2 separate regions of the Homo sapiens genome follow, and region 2 is linked to region 1. A link means that fine-mapping ties the variant in region 1 to the expression of a gene that starts in the linked region. Tissue or cell type: whole blood. Region 1 holds a variant in brackets; the other region holds the start of a gene. All regions are shown on one strand. Distances are from middle to middle.

Evidence for each region. PIP is the estimated chance that this variant, and not a neighbour inherited with it, causes the effect.
Region 2: MEST starts here. The variant in region 1 is fine-mapped to the expression of MEST in whole blood (INTERVAL, PIP above 0.99).

The regions. Positions count from the first base shown.
Region 1 is chr7:130,432,578-130,437,784 of GRCh38, reverse strand. All of the region lies in intron 1 of CEP41 (centrosomal protein 41), which reads left to right. Among named protein-coding and RNA genes, the nearest start is that of CEP41, 5.8 kb to the left of the region's middle. The variant G/A (reference allele first, on the strand shown) is at 2,303.
Region 2 is chr7:130,489,068-130,494,197 of GRCh38, reverse strand. It overlaps MEST (mesoderm specific transcript), which reads right to left and starts at 2,113. Exons shown (of 12, transcript NM_002402.4): 1 at 1,859-2,113. The coding sequence starts at 1,884. MESTIT1 (MEST intronic transcript 1, antisense RNA) reads left to right here and starts at 3,221. Exons shown (of 2, transcript NR_004382.2): 1 at 3,221-3,356; 2 at 4,231-5,130. RefSeq lists a silencer at 3,076-3,285.

The DNA of each region.
Region 1 (5,207 bases):
TTTTTTTTTTTTTTTTTTTTGAGACAGTCTTGCTTTGTCACCCAGGCTGGAGTGCAGTGGTACAAACATGGCTCACTATATCCTTGACCTCCTGGGCTCAAATGATTCTCCCACTTCCTGAGTAGCTGGGACCACAGGTGTGTGTCATCGTGCCCAGCTCATTTTTTTGTATTTTTTATAGAGATGGGGTCTCCCTATGTTGCCCAAGAGGGTCTTGAACTCCTGGGCTCAAGCAATCCTGCCTTGGGCTCCCAAAGTGCTAGGATTACAGGTGTGAGCCACCACACCTGGCCATCATCAGCATCTTGCAAAACATTGCTTAGTGGTCTAGTGTCTTGTGTTGTTGTGAAGTCCAAAGCCATTCTCTTGCTTTGTGACTGAATTTTCCTCTCAGGAAGCTTGTGGAACCTTTTTTTTTTGTCCCCAGTGTGACTTTACAAAGATATTTATATTTTCACTCATTTTGATAGGCACCAGAAATTTATGTCTTTTTAGTCTGAAAATTTTCTTAACTTTCTCTCTCCTATTTTCTCCATCCTCTTTTTCTTGAATTCATTATTCTGATGTTCTGTATTCATATAGATAACCTATATGACTGGTTCTCTGATTTTCGTAACTTTCATCTCCTGTTTCCCTCATCTTTGTCTTTCTGCTCCCTTTGGGAGATTTAATTTTTATCTTCCAATCCTTCATTTTAGTTTTTAATTTCTGCCATCATGTTTTTAATTTGTTTGTTTGTTTGTTTTGAGATAAACTCTCACTCTGTTGCCCAGGCTGGAGTGCAGTGGTGCGATTTCGGCTCACTACAACCTCCGCCTCCCAGGTTCAAGCGATTCTCCTGCCTCAGCTTCCCAAGTAGCTGGGATTACAGGCACCTGCCACCACGCCCAGCTAATTTTTTTGTATTTTTAGTAGAGACGGGGTTTTACCATGTTGGTCAGGCTGGTCTTGAACTCCTGACTTCAAGCCATCCACCTGCTGCCTTGGCCTTCCAAAGTGATGGGATTACAGGTGTGAGCCACTGTGCCCAGCCCATGTTTTTAATTTTTAAGAGCTCTGTTTTTTGCTCTGTTGTACTTTTAAAAAACGTTTTATTTCAAAATAAGTATAGATTCACAGGAAGTTGCAAAAAAAAAAAAAATAGTACAAAGAAGTCCTATGTATCCTTCACCCATTTTCCCCAATGATTATATTTTACATGAGTACAGTACAGTATCAAACTAGAAAATAGAAATTTGCACAATGTATGTATAGTTCTAGGCCATTTTATCACTTGTATAGATTTAATCAAGATTTACATATATGTAGATTTGCAATCAAGATAAAGAACTATTGCATCACTAGAAATATCTCCAAGCTACTCTTCTGGTCACACCTACTTTCTTCCCTCTCATCATCCTAACCCTGGGTAACCATCTCCATAATTTTGTCATTTTGACAATTTTACATAAATGGAATCATACAGTATGTGACCTTTTGAGATTGGCTTTTTTTTTTTTCACTCAAGATAATGTCCTTGAGTCGCATACAAGTTGTTGCATGTAGCAGTAGTTCATTCTTTCTGGTACCTGATCAGTATTCTGTGGTATGAATGTACAGCAGTTTTTTTGTTTTGTTTTGTTTTGTTTTTTGAGACGGAGTCTCACTCTATCACCCAGGCTGGAGTGCAGCGGCACCATCTCAGCTCACTGCAACCTCTGCTGCCTGGGTTCAAGTGATTCTCCTGCCTCAGCCTCCTGAGTAGCTGGGATTACAGCTTCCTACCACTGTGCCCGGCCAATTTTTTGTATTTTTAGTAGAGACAACATTTCACCATCTTGGCCAGGCTGGTCTTGAACTCCTGACCTAATGATCCACCAGCCTCGGCCTCCCAAAGTGCTGGGATTACAAGCGTGAGCTACTGTGCCTGGCCTGTACAGCAGTTTTTTAACCATTCAACTAGTATAGGACATTTTGGTTGTCATCAGTTTTGGGCTATTACAAATAAAGATGACATTTGGGTATAACTCTTTGTGTGGATGTTAATTTTCATTTATCTGGGATAAACGCCCAGGAGTACAATTGCTGGGTTGTATGGTAAACATATGTTTAGTTTTATTAGATACTGCCAAACTTTTCCAGAGAGGCTGTACCATTTTACATTCCTGCCAAGGGTGTATGAGAGATTCAGTTTTTGCATACTCTTGGCAACGTTCAACACTGTCAATATTTTTTATTTTAATGTTTATAATAGATGTGTAGTGCCATCTCATTGTGGTTTTAAGTTGCATTTCCTTAATGGATACCAAGCACATCTTTTCAT[G/A]TGCTTATCTGTCATCCATATATCCTCTTCAGTAAAATATCTCTTTGTGTCTTTTGCCTATTTTCTATTTTTCTTAACTGTTGAGTTTTTGTTTCCTTTTGTGTTGTTGGTGATGACTGTAAATATTATTGCAAAACAAGGAAATGTAGGATTACATTTCCTTTCTTACTGCTTTTTGTTTTTTCCTGGAGTTTCTGTTTCCTTTATTTTTAATTCTATACTTTTAATGAATAATTCAGGACATTTTCTTATATCACTATGTACTATGTTTTCATAGTTATCTTTTCCAAACCTTCTCTGTACATTTGAACATGTGTGTGATTGGGGGATGGAGAGAAATATAAGAGTTTTATTTTGTAGTTTTGTTTTACATAAATGTTACAACATTGTATATATAGTTCTTTGACTTGATTTTTTTCACTTAACAATATATCCTGGAGATCTTTCCATGTCAGAAAAATATACCTCAGTGTAATGACTTCCTTTTAACTCTTACCTAAGTATTTGGTGTGGTTGTATCACAGTTTTGTTTATTTGTTTTTTTGTTTTGCTAGTTCTGTAAGACCTCAGTTGTACAAATGGACTGATATGATTTGATTATCTGTATACTTCAGTTATAGCCAATTTTGGTTCTTATTGCTTTTATTCCCACTCTTCTCCTTTGACTATAGACATCTGCTCCCATATATTTAATGTATATCTTTCTAATTCAGCAGCCATATTTTTCATATAAAACAGACATTATTTTGTGAGCTTAAAAATTTTACAAAAATAGTGTTATGCTATTTGTATACGATTTGCTTTTATCATGCAAATTATGCTTCAGATCCATCTATGTTGATAAATATGTCCAGTTTATTACTTTACCTATTGTATAGTAATCTAGCATGTGACTAGAGCACATTTTACCTATCAGTTTCCCCATGGTCATTTAGGTTGTTTTTGACTACCTGCAGTTACAAACACTGATGCAATGAATAGTTTTACTTTTGAGTTTTGAGAGCTCTTTATATATTTGAGATAGTAGTCCTTTGTCAGATATGTGCTTTGCAAATATTTCCTCCCAGTCTGTAGCTTATCTTTTCATCTTCTTCACAGGGTCTTTTGTAGAGCAAAAAGCAATTTTAAAAAAAATATATTTACTTTTTACATTTTTTTTCTGTAAGAGCTTTTTTGAGATGTAATTCACATAGCATATGTAATATTGGTTACAGTGGTTGTGGGGAATGAGATAATGTAGGTAAAATGCTTAGTGCCTGATGATATAGTAAGTACTCAATAAATGTTAGCAGCATTACCATGTTTCTTATTGTTGTTAAATCATCTCCGGCAAATAGAACAATTTGTTCTTTAAACTTGCTTTTAAAGTGGCTTTGCTATTAAAAATTTCTCCACTTGGAATACTTTTTCCATTCCTTCTTCCCATCTTTTTTATCCACAGAAGATCAACCCTTAAAACATAGCTCCAGTGTCCATTCTTCCATGAAGTCTTTCTTATCACCCCCAGTGGATGAACAATCTCCTTTGACATTCCTCCCTAGAGCCCTCCATGTCCGTGCTGCCCACGTGGCACCAGCATGCACACTACATGTTGCTCAGGTCTTCATTTGGCAGGTACTTGTTGCTCTCTCATTAGTAGAGGGTCTTGTAGTAGGTACAGAGATCTACAAGATAGAGCCCCTGTCCCAAGTGCAGGAGTAAGACGTGTGAATGGTACAAAGAACTGTGAATATTCAGTCAAGGAAGAGATTTCCATTTGACTAAGGCCTTCAGAGGAATCTTCCCAGAAGATAAGTTTGCCCTGAGTCTTGGAAGTCACGTAGAATTGAAATAGCTGGGCTGTGGTGGGTAGACAGGGAGGACATTTTCTTTTATGTAAACCCTCAAAGGGTCTTTGACATTTTTGGTTGTTTTCAAAGAGCCTGTAATGATACCACAAACAGGAACTTTCTCAACTTCCTGCCTCTTCCAGATGAACTTCATTCTGACCACCTACCTATCTTATATCTTTATCTTAAATAGATCCAAAATTGACCCTGCTGTCTGGGCTCTGGACCTCATCCTCTCCCACTCTCTCCATACCATTTTCAACCTCTCTTATCTTGCCCATTAGCCTGTATATACATCCTCAAATCTCTCCTTTTTTTTTTTTTCAAAACAAAATAACAGCAACAAAGATTATTCCTTAGCAACTCTCTTAAGGGAAAAAGAAAAGATCATCCAGCTACTGTCCTCTTTCCTCCTTCGCCTCTCATATACTTGATCTGCTGTTTTTTGCATCTGCCGCATCAGTTTCCCATAGCTGCTTCCACCAGGGCCGTCAACAATGTCCTGGTGTGCTAAATTCAAATTCACTTTTCTCTTGGTCTCTTACTTGAACAGCATTCTTGTTCACTTGTTCATACTTGACCTCTTGTTCTCTGACTTGACAGCATTGTTCACTGTTGGCCACTCCCTTCTTCCTGATTTAATTTTCATGACCCACTTTTGTATGGCCTCTTCTGAGTTTCATCCCAGGTGCCTCTCCTCCACCTGACCTTAAATGTTGGGGTTTTTCAGTCTGCACTCTCCTCAGCATGATTTTGTTCATTTCCATGGCTTCCTCTGCTGCCTGTAGGCTGACAACTCCCAAATCTTGTTTTTTTCTAGCCCAGGTCTCTCTCCTGATTTCTAGATGCAAGTAGCCAACTAGGTACTTCCATTTCGTTTTTTGGGTTTTTTTTTAGTGAGAGTGTCACTCTGTCACACAGGCTGGATTGCAATGGCAGGAACATTGCTCACTGCAGCCTTGACCTGGGCTCAAGGGATCTTCCCACCCCAGCCTCTCGAGCAGCTGGGACCACAGGCACATGCCACCATGCCCAGCTAATTTTTTTTTTTTTTTTTTTTTTTTTGTGGAAACAAA
Region 2 (5,130 bases), 56 kb before region 1:
CGCTAACTTCCTCAACTTACAAGATACTTTTCCCCCCCATATCCCTGATACTTTTTGCTAAAATCTAAAAACAAGCCTGTGGTTTTACAGTGGTAAAATAACCATGTTTCTTAAACAATGTCAGCTCCCCAGGCTATTTTTTAGGCATTATTAGGGCAGTCATTTCTTTTTTTCTCCAAAGTACCTGTCCATAAGACGGATAGAACCATTTGGTCCTACTTCTCAAGGTAATACTAGAAATGGTTCAAAAAAGTGCCAGAACATGATGGTTATATCACAGTTTTCACCCAACAATAGCAGGCTGTATCCCAGTATCTCCTTGAAAGGTCAGATGACAAAAACCATTAGGTTTTGACGATCATTTGCCCAGCCCTATCTGTCCTGTACTTCAATGTATACATTTTCATGTGCAGATTTCATTACTCCTTTCCCCCAGTGCTTCTCATCGCATTCATCCCCGGGGTTCCAGCAGCTGAATCTCTGCAGTGACTCAGCAGAGAGCCCCGGGAGGGGCGGCCAGAGCGGCAAATGGGGAGGCTTCCCCGCCGCTGCTCAGGGAAAGTGGGGGGTTAAAAAACGAGGCTATCGACCAACATACTCCACTCCTGGACACCCCCCTCCACACCCTCCTCCTCTTACTCCAAGAAAGCAAAGAGGCAACCTCTCAGGGGGCCATTTTTTGTCTTATTACCTCAGTAAAAATGCCCCCATGAACTTTTAGGATTTTTAGAAGTGAAGCAACCTAGCCGTCAGTAGGCAAAATGGGTTAAGCAAACATTTTTTGGCCAAAATCCCAACTATTTGATGAGCCATGAGCGGAGACAATAAGCAAACTCCAGTAACAAACTTTCCAAAAATTTCTGAGCCTTGATTTCTTCATCTTGTAAACAGAAAAACACACTCCCGTAATAATACCACCCAACCTGCCGCCCACCTGATGGCGTCGCCGCGAGACGAACCACTTTGAAAACCCGCGAAACCAAGGTGAACAATCCCTGCGCAACATGACAGTTTGGTCACATCGCCGTTCTCACTCGCGCTTGTTACTGAAATCTGAAAAATACTTAAGGCGGCTGACGGGCACTGCGAGTTCTAGTCACTGCGGTGACTCCCGCCACCGTGATACCTGGGTCTTGAAATCCTAAGCTGCACCGCGGCGATCTCGGCACTGCGATTATCCCGTTCTTGAAATCCTAAGGTGCGCCACGGAGACACCGGGGTTCTAAAAATCCTACATCGCACCAGGGCGATGCTGGGGCCTATCCTTTAAGTCGCACCAGAGCGATGCTGGGGTTCTAAAAATCCTACATCGCACCAGGGCTTTGCCGGGATCTATAAATCCTAAATCGCGCCACGGCAACGGCGGAGTCTAAGAATCCTGAATCGCACCAGAGGGAAGCCGGAGTCTAAATATCCTAAATCAAACCAGGGCGATGCTGGGGGTTAGAAATCCTAAATCATGCTGCAGCAATGACTGAGTATAAAAATCCTAAATCGCACCAGGGTGATGCCAGGATCTAAAAATCCCAATTCGCATCAGGGTGAGACCAGGGTCATTATGGATCCTAAGTCATATCAAGATGACGCTGGGGTCCAGAAATCCTAAATCTCACCACGACGATCCCGGGGTCTAGAAATCCTAACCCAAGGAGGTCCCGCGTTCTGAACATTCCATTGCGGGCAGGAGTGACACCCCCTCCTCAAGTAGGCAGAGCGGGCGCGGAATGCGTGCCGCCTGTCGGTAGAGTTTTCGCCCAGAGGCAGCCCCAGCTCGGACACGGGCACACAGTCCTCCGCTCGCCTGCGCCCTAGTCCCAGGGCCGCCAGCCACACCCCCTCGTTCCCACCGCACACTCACCTGCGGAGGCGATCTCGGCGCACCATGGCCGCGTTATCCCATGCCGCCCGCCGCAGCGTTGCAGAGCACCGGGCGCCGCAGAGCCCGCAGCCGTGCAGAGCTGGCCAGCAGCGGGGGCGCAGCCCGCAGCCCACAGCCCGCGCAGGGCGGCGCCGCGCCGGGCAGCTACAGCCACTCCGGCGTGCGCTGCGGCACTGCGCTTGCGAGGCGCAGCTGCCGCAGAGGAGGTGCCGGGGTGTGCTGGTTGCCGCGGCAGCGCGGAGCGAGTGGGCACCGACTTTTAGAGCCCACCCGCGCCCCGCCCCTAGCCCGCCCATCGCCGCAGAACCCCTACCGCCTGCTCCCTTGCTCGCCGCAGAGCCCCTCCCAGCCGCTCTACCACCGCCATGGCCACAAAGATGGGGTGCCCCTCTAACAGTGGCTCCTTTAGGGGGCACCTTCAGGGGTGTCGAGCCCCCTCCCCAAGACCCCGCTGCTCCCTCGTTAACCGCCAACCCTGAGCCCGAGATTCTGCTGCAGAAACCCTCCCCTGATGAGTTAAGGCCACGGGCAAAAACAGCAGACCCCTGAGTGCCCCAACTCTTTCCTTAGACCACCCACAAACCCCACAGGCCGCCCACAAACCCCACAGGCTGCCCACAAGCCCCACAGGAGGATGGCCGCTCGAACTAAGGGGCAGCAGGGCTCTGGGGTGCCGGCCGTGGCGCCTGCTCCCATCCCTCGTTCGAAGCGTGGGTACTGAACCGTGAGAGGTGGCGAGCCACGAGGGCCCTATGCGCCCTAAGCTTAACTACCGGTAACCACCAAGGGCACGAGCAAGCGGCTAGGGAGCAACAAGCTCTGTTGGACCCACCACCAAGCTAGTAAACAGATTCATGGGATGGCCACTATGGCCAAAGTTGCACAAAGTCCGGTTTCTCCCGCTCCAGCCACCGCCGCTGCGCGGGGCAGGTTTCCTTTACAGCAGCGCGACGTGGTCAGCATGCCAGACGCCTGGCCACAGCAGCGCCCTCGCAGCCCCGCTCGCTGCATGCGCCGGTCCGCGCTGCACAGAACAGTGGGCACAATTAGGAGAGCAAAGCCCCCTTTATTTACGTAAGATAGAATCACAATGCAAGGGCCCAGAGGCACAAGAAAGAGGGAGGAATTTTTCTAATCCATAATCCTTTAAAAGGCATCCCTTACGCCTTTGAAAAGTGTAGAGTATCACGAAGTGTCTGTGTTCATTTTCTGACCGTAAACTGAAATACTGGTGAACAAACGTGGGGTGCGAGCGGGTGAGCGGGGCGGCCGGCCGGTGCCCGCTGCATCCAGAGGGGGCGCTGCAGGCCTCCCTTCGGCTGCGCACGGCCCGGGCCCTCCGCGGCTCTGCAACTCTGCACCCCGAAAGGTTCGGTGCTGGACCGCGGGGCATCCAACCCGGGACCGGGGGCGACCCACGGACACTGAGGAAACTACCGCCTATAAGCCTATCATCAGAACCTCTGGCACAACACAGGTACACTTCTGCAGGGGTCTGGTTGCCCCCAGAAAAAGCACTCATGAAACAAATGCTGATTTAGCACCTACAGGGCACTAAGAACCGGGGGTGCGAAATAAATGAGAAATAGCCCCGGCCCGAAAACAACACACGGGCCATCTGGAGGGGAAGACAGACAAGAACTGCCACTTTGTAAAATTTTCCTTTTAATTTCCTAGCGACGTTTGTGGCAGTTGACCCACTCCTCCCTAACGTGTAAGGCCCTCAGAGGCAGAGCCCAAGTATTATTCACCTTTTGTAGCCCCAGAGCCCGCCACGGTGCCGGCCACAAAGCTGGCCCCTAATAAATACTGCTTGAATGAGTACAAGAATTTGAGGGCGCACAGGGGAGGAAGTAATTAAGGGGAGGGGCGAAGGGTGGTCTTGAATGATGAATAGACATTTACCAGAGAGACAAAGAACATTCCAGCCGGAGGGGACGGCTTTCGCAAAGCACCGGAGGCTCAGGGCCGCGTGTTTGGGGAAAACGGTTAGTCCTTTGAGCCGGCAAAAAATTAGGATAGCAAGAGAATTTCATCGTAGGGAATTAGGAATTTGTTCTAGAGAAAATGAGAAGCCACAGATGGATTTAAACTCTTTATGGCCTTAATTGGTTACTTAACAAAATTTAAATTAGTCTCTTTACAAGTCAAAGATTACCTATTTTAACTACCACTACCTTTTAAAGACTGAATTACTCTGCAAAATCTAAATCGGTTCTTCCAAAAAGGTAAAGGCTTTCCTATTTTAATAATAACAATAACAAAAGCCTTTGCATTATATATTTTTCATATTTATTGTTAATGGAAACTTTGAGTCCTACAAACAAATTCCACACTTTCATTCTCACCAGGCCAGAAACACCAGCATCCAAGATGAAGGCAATTTTCTGTTTATGGACTGAGTACCCCACAAAAGATCTTATTCTGAAGGCCATGGAACATGTCTACCCACATGGATCAAGTGGGCAGACTGGAGGAGAAACAGTTTAAAGGCCCTGGGGGAAGGAGGGAGCGCCAGGGAGAGCTCCTGAAGACAACAGGAATTCCAAGTCTGGCACTCGGGAGAAATCCTCCCTTCAGACATTATTGATGTCTGGCCGAGGAGTTAGGAAAAACTTCCTTGAAGGAGGGATTGAGGTTGAGATGGGCATGGAACCCAGATCTTAGGCAGAGAAAGCATATTCCTGTTTGGAAGAACCCTGAGTACAGAAGTCAGCTCAAAGATATCAGCTTGGCCCAACCAGGAATTCGCTGTGGGAAGTCTAAGAGAGAAAATGCTGGCCATAATCCCCCAGGAGCCAAAGAGTTAACGAATCTTCTAAATGTGCCTGATTTACTTCCAGAAAGGAGCTTCCTCCGCAGGGGGAGAATTTGACCCAAGGTATAAAACACTTGGAGCCCTGAGAAAACACACAGCCACACATAAATTCAAAGTCGGCTCTGGCTTGCTCGAAGTTGCACCCTTTCAGTTCCTCTGGACAGATGCTATCCTGGACTGTGCAGGATATCTCATGCAGTAGTACTCCCTCAGCCAGTGGCTTATCACACATTCTTGTCACATTCCAAGTCTAACACAGTTCCGCCTCATGATAAGACCTCAGATCTGTGCAAAAATTCATGTAGAAAGCTCTGCATTTATTATCTCGCTGATTCACAACAGTGGTATGGGATCAGCAGAGATGGTACCACAGATTCAAGAACCATATTTTTCTAACCCCAGTTTGAGACCCATAATATGACAAGTGCAGGAT